Regions from separate parts of the Homo sapiens genome. Here all the other regions are linked to region 1. The links come from fine-mapping of genetic effects on gene expression. A gene starts in region 1. Each other region holds a variant in brackets. All regions are shown on one strand. Distances are from middle to middle. Region 1 holds the start of SLAMF8 (SLAM family member 8). Region 2 overlaps ATP1A4 (ATPase Na+/K+ transporting subunit alpha 4). Region 3 overlaps FCRL6 (Fc receptor like 6).

Region 1 (2,760 bases):
GAGGCTGAGACAGGAGAATCGCTTGAACCCAGGAGGCAGAGGTTACAGTGAGCTGAGATGCACCATTGCATTCCAGCCTGGGTGACAGAGCAAGACTCCGTCTCAAAGAAAAAAAAAAAAGGCAAATTATTTTTGTCTCACCAAACAGACCAAGGCCTTTTTTGAGGTTAAGGTGTGATTTCCTGCACATGTTTAGAAATATTGAAGAAATCTGCAGGCTTTGGAGCTCTCAGGGCCAGGAACTCAGGCAAGGAGATGAAACAAAGCAACCCAAAGTCCCTATGAGCCTCTGATGTAAACAATATCATCTTAATCTTTGCTGCACCCCATAAACCCTCATCCATGGCCCGGCAGTGTTGACCCATGTCATGTTGGCTGCTTGTTGACCAAGGAAGGGAACTCAGGCATCAGATGGATAGAGGGATCGCCCGGTGTGGAGGAGACCCCGTGTATCAGCCATCCCAACATCACACCACCGTCGGCCACCCCTAAGTCCACGTGGGCCACATTTAGCCTCTCTCATCCCTACTTAGTACTTGCCTCCCCTTATAAAGGCCTGTAGGGAGGGACCTCAGCTCCCCCACAGGCTGTTGAAAACACACTCTGCTGATTGTGGGGAACCCTGCTCTGCCCTGCCCTCTGCTACTCTCCTCAAACTCTGCAGAGTTTCTGCATGCTAACACTGCCGGGTCCTCACCATTCTCACAGCCGACTTTCTCTCCAAACCAGCAGTATCACCCACTGGCTCCGTTTTTACTGCTCTGGGCCACAAAACAGCTCATGTCTCACAGATAAGAATACCCCTCAAGCTGCCACCTCCTCCCTCCCAGGACCCTGCATCTCTTTGTATCTGCCTAGCTTAAAATGTTGCCCAAGAGCTTGTTCTAGTCTTTCCTACCCACCCTCAGCTTCTGGGTTCTCACCCAGGTCGAGGGATCCCTGCCCAGACGTCTGGCATAGGCAGCTGGGGAGGGGCCTTCAGCTCTCCGAGGACAGGCTATCTGCCTGCCCCACTTACCTTCCCAGAGAAGCAGACTCCACAGGGGCCTCATGACCATCTTTCTCTGGAGAGGCAGGCAAACTCCCTCGACAGCCAAAATCCAGAACCTCCCAGGCCGAGTGGATGCACGGGAGGAGCTGTGGTCCTTCTGGAAAGTCCCATGTTCAGAAGGAGGAATCTTGACTCAGAACAGGATGTCCCAAAAGTGAAAACATCCAGAATAAAGTGGAAGTTGTCCCTGGGCCTCTCTGGGCTTACAGGAGCAGATTCTTGTAAGTCAGCCTCTTTCACATGCACATGGTTGGCTAACACGTGGCGACAACAGCCCCCACACAAGCCACATCCTCCTTGCTGGATCTCGCTGGCCTTCCTGCATCTCAGCCTGCCTCACTACTATCTGTCATCCTCATTCTAGCTTAAAATGCTTCTGTGGCCTCCCGTGGACCTGAGGATGAGGACTAACTCTGCTCTGCATGCAGGCCCTCCTGAGTCAGGCCTTCTTCTCCAGGCTGGTCGCCCACAGTCATTCTGCCCTCCAGCCATCCCAAGCCAGAAGGCCTCCTTCTCAGAACTACTGATTTCACACTTCCCTGTGTTGTACTTTCCCCACCACCCCGACTAGGCATGCTGCTCCCTCTATCCTTGCAAACAGAACATGGCTGTGCAGTCGGCGAGGACATCCTTCCAGGCTTCCTGACCACAGGCAGGTGAGAGGCCCTCTCCTTGTGTCCTGTGCATGCCCACACCTCCCTCTTTACTCTTGCTGTGTTGTTGATGACAGTTTTCTGGTTTTCACAGACTGTTTAGCCAGTCTTTTGTTCCCTTCTGTGTTGCCCTCAGTGCTTGGCACATTACAGATGTTTCATGAGTATTTGTTAAGTGAGTGAGTACATTCTAGACATGGCTACACATCTGGCTTTATGTAAGCCTTGCAACTCTCCTCTGAGAGGATCATCTTGTTACCTGGTTAGAAATGGGAAAATGTGAAAACCAGAGTGAGGTTAGGCCCCTTGCAGAGCTCACAGAGAGGCAGAGCTGGAACTTGAACCTCAGCCTTTGAAGTGTGGTCTATTTTGCCACAGTTATCCCCTCCTCATCCTGTTTCTCTTCTCACTTCAAGTTTCTTGGTTTCTTGCCAGTGAAGGTTTTTAGAGGACGTGTTGCCCCTGAGGAAAATTCCTGCTAGTCTGGAGTGTGGCTCATCGTATCTGGTCCTGCACAGCCTCTCGCCTGTCAATCAAACTGGACACTGAGCTTTGGACTCAGCCAGGAACTAGGCATATAGGATGGGGTGGGGGTGGGTGGTGAGCAGGAGGATTTTGGGATAAGGTTTTTGCCCTCCAGGTACTCACAACCAAAATGTAGAGATAGGTACACCAAGGAAAGTGAAGGGTTATCTGCAGACAGACACCACTTTGTGCAAACAGGTAGTCAGTCCTCAGAAGTGGGTGGGAAAGAGGGCTTCGCGGATCTGGGCAGGGGACGCTTCTTGAGAAGGTGGAATTTGAGCTGTGCCTTGAAGATGGGCATGGTTTAGATAATATGAGGAAAGGAGAGAGCCAGAGGTTGGGGGTGGGCTCTGGGCAGGAGGGGAGAGCAGAGCGTGCAGGGATGTGGCTGTGGGAAAATACCAAGTAGGCTCCACAGAGGACAAGGGACAGCAGACAGGAATCCTTTAGGGCTGGGTGGGAAGAATGGAAAAGGAGGTTGGGGGCAGATTGTGGAGGCCTTGAAAACTGGGTTAAGTTCTTCTGGAGACT
Region 2 (2,760 bases), 340 kb before region 1:
TGTTAAGTGATTTAGCCAATACTAGAACTCACTCTCAGTGACTGATAATCCAATGCACTTTCCATTGAAACTTGCTTCCTCTCTCATTGAGGAAAGAGAAGACACCGAAATATATGGGCAGAAGGAGTCAGTGTAATATTGAGAGCTAAATTATTCCTGATACCTATTTACATATCAGGAAGACCCTGCACTTGAAAGGTTCAACAACAAAAGAGACGCTAGTGATCCCTTTTCCCTGGGGTGGTTTGTCTGCCCTGAGGCCATTTTCCACCCTGTCTACTCACAGTGACTGTGGCCAACAGCCCCTCAGGCACATTGGCCACAATGATGCCAATGAGAAAAATGATAGCCTCCAGCCAACCATAGCCCAAGAGAAGTGAGAGCGCAAAAAAAGTGACACCAAGGAAGACGGCCACCACAGTGATCAGATGGATGAAGTGTTCGATCTCAGCAGCGATAGGTGTCTGGCCAACCGCCAGGCCTGACGTCAGGGAGGCAATTCTGCCCATCACTGTGGAGTCTCCCGTAGCAATCACAATACCCCGGGCGGTTCCTGTGGATGAAGCAGGAGAGGGCAATGTGATGTTGTGATATGATAAGAAGTATAGATATTGGTCTCTGCCCCCACTTCCTGACATAGAGCTTCTAAAAACCCTTAAAGATAGGGGTGCTAGGAGAATCTTTTGTTCTAATATTTGGTCTTTGACCCAGTTCTGGACACAGAGCTCCTGAGACCCTTGTAATTTCTTGAGTGATAGGAGTGTCTGACACAGAACTCTTAAATGCCTTGGAGTTTCCTGGGTGATAGGAGTATCTTTGTTCTAATGAGGTGACTCTTGGTGGGTTCCTGGATAGCCACAGGATGGGGCTGGTGGCCAGGGCAGATAACCATGTGATTAGAGAGTTGGAACTTGCAGTTCATGGACTGACCTCTTTGGAAGGGAGGAGGGATGAAGGTTGAGTTGATCACCAATGGCTAATAATGTAACCGATTATACCTATGTAATGAAATCTCCATTAAAAACCTCAAAGGACTGGGTTTGGAAAGTGTCTATGTGTATGACCATGTGGAGGGTTACTGGAGGGCACCCTGGACAGGAGAGGGCACAGACGCTCCTCCATGCTCCTTCCCACGTGCCTTGTCCTGTGCGTCTCTTCCATATGACTGCTCATCTGTATCCTTGTAATATCCTTTATAATAATGGGTAAACCTAAGTAAGGTGTTTCCCTGAGTTCTGTGAGCCATCCTAGCAAATTAATCAAACCTGAGGAGGGAGTCGTGGGAACCCCAATTTATAGCCAGGCCATAACCTAGGACTTGTGACTGGGGTCTAGAGTTAGGGACTGTCTTGTGGGGCTGAGCCCTAACCTGTGGGATCTGATGCTATCTCCAGGTGGATTGTGTCAGAGTTGAATTGAATTATAGGACACCCAATCATTGTCCTTTGGAGAACTGGTTGTTGGTGGGGAGAACTGTCTACACATGTTGGACACAGAAGTGTTCTGTGTTCAGCGTGAGTGTAGAGAAAAAAAAAAGCTGTTTCTTGTTTTTTCCATCAGAGATGGTCACCCAAGACATGCCGAGTCTGAATTGA[G/A]GAAGCTGTTTGGTTTGGTTCCCACAAAGAGCAAGCTGTCAATGGTCAAAAACAAACTGGAGACTCAAGGCCCTCTGAGAGGTCATTATGTTCTGCTCTCCTCATATTTAGTTTATACAAATAAAGGTCTTCTAGTCTGAAAAATCTCTGAAGAGGTCTCACAGTTCTCCTGAAATACCCAATTTTATTGCCTAATTTCCTTCACTGTCAAGAAGGCCTTTATTATACTTAATCTGAGTATCTTCTATTGCCTATATAGTTCTTATCTTGCCCTCAGCAGCTGAGGAGTTTCTAGATCCCAGGAATAGTGGTTACCCTTCTGGTAGAGCCCTATGTTCCAACATCCCCTTATCCCCTAACACAGTGGTTCTCAACTGGAGGCAATCCCTACCCACCAACCCCCTTCCCTGGGGACATTTGGCAATGCTTGGAGACATTTTTGGTGGTCACTACTGGGGTGGGAGAAGGCTCCTACTGGCATGCAGTGGGTAGAGGCCAGGATGCTGTTAAACATCCTGCCACGCACAAGACAGCTCTCCTGTCCCGCACAACAAAGAATTATCCAGCCCCAAATGTGAGTGGTTGAGAAATCCTGCTGTAACTTGCGCCCCCTCCCTGCTTTGCTGGCTGGAGCCAATCTGACCTCTGCTGGGTAGCACGGGCCATAACAGCTGGGCTTCTGTGCTTATGAGGTCCCTCTTTCCTCTCCACCAGCACTGCCCCAGTCAGAAGGGCAGCTTGGACATCATGTTTGGCTTTACACACACATGATGCAGGCCACTCACCTTGAAATGAGGGGCATGACAAAATTCTTTTCTTAAAGTAATTCTTCCTGCTTTACCATAATGACTGAAATTTCTACCATTGAAATCAGAGTCAGAATCACTTAGGCAACATATCACTGAAACTGCATTTATTTTAAAAGCAGAAAGACTCAGGGCCGGAAGTTCAGCTTTCTAAATTACTAGCTCTTTTCCTTGGGGCAAGTTACTTAAATGCTGAGAGTCAGGCTTCCTCATCTTCGAAATGGAATGAAAGCACTTACTAAACTGTGAGGACTGAATATTTTTAAGAGTCTAGAAGGTTAGGTACATCATAGGCACTTGAAAATTAGTTTCTTTCTCTTTCTTCTCATCATTTAGATGAACTTAGGGTTTCCAGTAGG
Region 3 (2,760 bases), 23 kb after region 1:
TCAGCTCAATTCTCTATTCAGCTCAGGGTCAGCTCAGTCATATGCTCTCAAGAGTGTGCAGAACAATGAGTCTCTTCTTTATCATCCCTCCATCTCCACCCCTAACCCCCATCTATGAGCTCGGTGTAGTGGAAAGCATGCAGGATTTGGAATCAGATGACCTGGACTTGAGTCATGAATTTGCCTCTTTCTGTACGACCTTGAACAAGTTGTCTAAGTTCCAAGAGCCTTCAATATCTCATTCTGTCATATCACATAATAGAAATGATAATAGTCATTTTTTTCTTACAGTGTAGTTGTGAAGGTTATGTTGACCCACTGCCTGGGAAAGTGGTTACTACATTAACTGAAAGCAGAAAGAAGGCCTGACCTCAGAGTGACAGAGACCTTACTCTGTAGTTATGTCTTCCTTCCCTTCCCCACCTCACTGGAAAACAATTGTGCAGCTACAAAGTGCTAAACAAACAGGGTTGAGACTACTGAAGCCAAAAACAAGACAGAAGGCACTCAGGAAGCATAGATGCACTTAAAATGAGCTCCTGTCCCCAAATCTCAATGACTTGCTCCCCATGGTACTGCAAGATCTTGGAGGTGGGATTACAAAATTGGTTTCTGCAATCAAAACAGCAGCCAACTGGGAACATACACAGGGGGTGACACCTGCTTACAGCAGTTCCTGCAATGAGGGCCCAGGGACCTCCATTAGCTATAGGCTGAAGATGAGGTGACAGTATCATGAAGTGGCCAAGAGCTATGGTCAAACCAAGTTGCGTAATAGAATTCCGAAAAATGAAGGCAGGAGCCCCTGCCAACTCTAGGAGCAGGATAATTTCCTCTTAAAGTTTCTGAGGGATCGGGAGATATTTATCTGGGAAAGATGCAACAGAGGAAAGACACAAAATACTTGGTGGGCTAAGCTTAAAAGAAGGGGGAGACTTATTCTGAGTTACTTTATAGGACAGAAATGGAAACTAGAGGGATCATGGAGGCAGATTTCGGCTCAACATGAAGAACTCTCTCACCACTGAGCTCTAGCACTGTGGAACAGGCTGCAGTGCCAAGCTGCAGCAGTCACATTGCTGGGAGGGCTGTATGGGACCCCATGACACCTCCTATGGACGCTGTGTGAGAATGCGGGGAGCAGCCTCCAGTGGTAGG[A/G]GGGAAGTTGGCTAATGTTCAGCTCAGAAGAAAATTAAGCCTAATTTCCCAAACTTTAAATACATATTTCACATTCAGCCAGGTCCCCACATGCTCAATGTCAGGATTCCTTTCCTCCCGGAGCCCTGACAGCCAATAATAGTAATAGCCACCAATTTATTATGACCACACCCTGCTCTTGAGAGAGGAAATAGCAGCTCTACACTTATGGTAAGATAAATGTTGCTACACACCCAGCCCCAGTGTCTGTGTTTTAGGCTGTTTTTCCAGGGTCCCTGAGCATCAAGTGGGACCAAATTTGCTGGTGCTGGATTCTCCATTACACTGTGCACCAGTCAGCCGGTCACTGATTCCCTTCCTCTCCTCATTTGCTGTCTGTCATCCTCGTCCTGGGTTCCAAGCTGGAACACTCTCAGACTGTATCTAGACAAGTCCAAGGGCTGTTCCTTTTACAAGGTAGTGCCGGTAGTGCCATTTGCCCCTGGGAGTCTTCTGCCTGGAGTATATCCAGGCATTAGGCTATCCTGTCCCCGCCTCAGTGTGAGCATTAGACCTTTTCATTTGTCCAAATGGCCATTCATAGAACACACGAGTAGCATGCTATGCTGGAGAAGGAACATTGAGTGGAAGGGGCATTTTCCTCACAGGGTCAAATTCTCACAAACTCTGTCCAGGAAGAGGTTATATTTAGGAACAGTTTTGCTTTTCTAGTTCAAGGAATACAAATAGCAAGCAAGCTATTGGGACCAAGAATTAAACAAAAAGTAGGTCCACTTGGAAACTGTAAAGTGAAACAAAATATATGCCAAATTATTTCTTTTAGGTATAAGGGGGGTGACACTGGCTGAGACTGAGCTGGGTCTGGGGGAGCCCAGTGACCCTCTGCGTGCAATCCTCTACCCTTAGACCAGCTCTCTTAGTTACAAGTAGCCTGCATGAGAAGAAATGGAGAGAAGAGAGAGAGAGACATGGATCAGACAATGGAGTTGATTCTTCAAACCAGCCCCATGGATCTGAAACAGCTCCCAACAGAGAGAAGATGTAGGCGGAAGAGAGACAGTCAATTTGAAAAGGGCTTTGGTTACTCAGAGCACAGGCCTTTCAACCAGGTGAGAGGTCTGGCCATTGTTACCTGGTTCTAAGAAAATGCTGAGGCTCCATAAAAATATGTCACCCTGTAAAATTCCACCTCCCATTGCTGAGCAAAATGCCTGGGACTGTTTCCCCTCATTTCCCTGACTCCTTCCCTGTTGCCCCCAGCAGCCTCCTTCCCTCCTGCAACCTCCATTTCCTTTTGAGACAGCTCTGATTAGTATTTTAACCTGATGTCACAAGGTAGAAATGTCATTGGGAAGTTAGGGGACTTTGTAATGTGATTTTCTGCCTCCCTAATTTATCTCTGACATATCAAAGGGCTGCGCTGCCAAGGACCCAGGACTACGGGGTAGGAAACACTGAGGAGTTTCTCCTACCCCAGTGCCCATCTCTCCCAAGCATGCCCAGGTGCACACACCTGTCTTGAGCTCCAGCCACAAACCCACTGGAATTGGGAAAGGTAAGATGAGGAACTTGGTGTCTCAGGGATGACTTACGGTCCTTAGT

Evidence for each region.
Region 2: its variant is fine-mapped to the expression of SLAMF8 in macrophages (Nedelec 2016, PIP 0.90).
Region 3: its variant is fine-mapped to the expression of SLAMF8 in whole blood (INTERVAL, PIP 0.94).

The regions. Positions count from the first base shown.
Region 1 is chr1:159,825,197-159,827,956 of GRCh38, reverse strand. It overlaps SLAMF8 (SLAM family member 8), which reads right to left and starts at 1,084. Exons shown (of 5, transcript NM_020125.3): 1 at 1,019-1,084. The coding sequence starts at 1,058.
Region 2 is chr1:160,161,949-160,164,708 of GRCh38, reverse strand. ATP1A4 (ATPase Na+/K+ transporting subunit alpha 4) reads right to left here. Exons shown (of 22, transcript NM_144699.4): 7 at 285-553. Among named protein-coding and RNA genes, the nearest start is that of ATP1A4, 12 kb to the right of the region's middle. RefSeq lists an enhancer at 2,201-2,290. The variant G/A (reference allele first, on the strand shown) is at 1,596.
Region 3 is chr1:159,802,491-159,805,250 of GRCh38, reverse strand. The region is part of intron 1 of FCRL6 (Fc receptor like 6); the gene reads right to left. It overlaps LOC105371464 (a long non-coding RNA gene), which reads left to right. Exons shown (of 3, transcript XR_922195.2): 1 at 1-2,713. Among named protein-coding and RNA genes, the nearest start is that of FCRL6, 1.5 kb to the right of the region's middle. The variant A/G (reference allele first, on the strand shown) is at 1,159.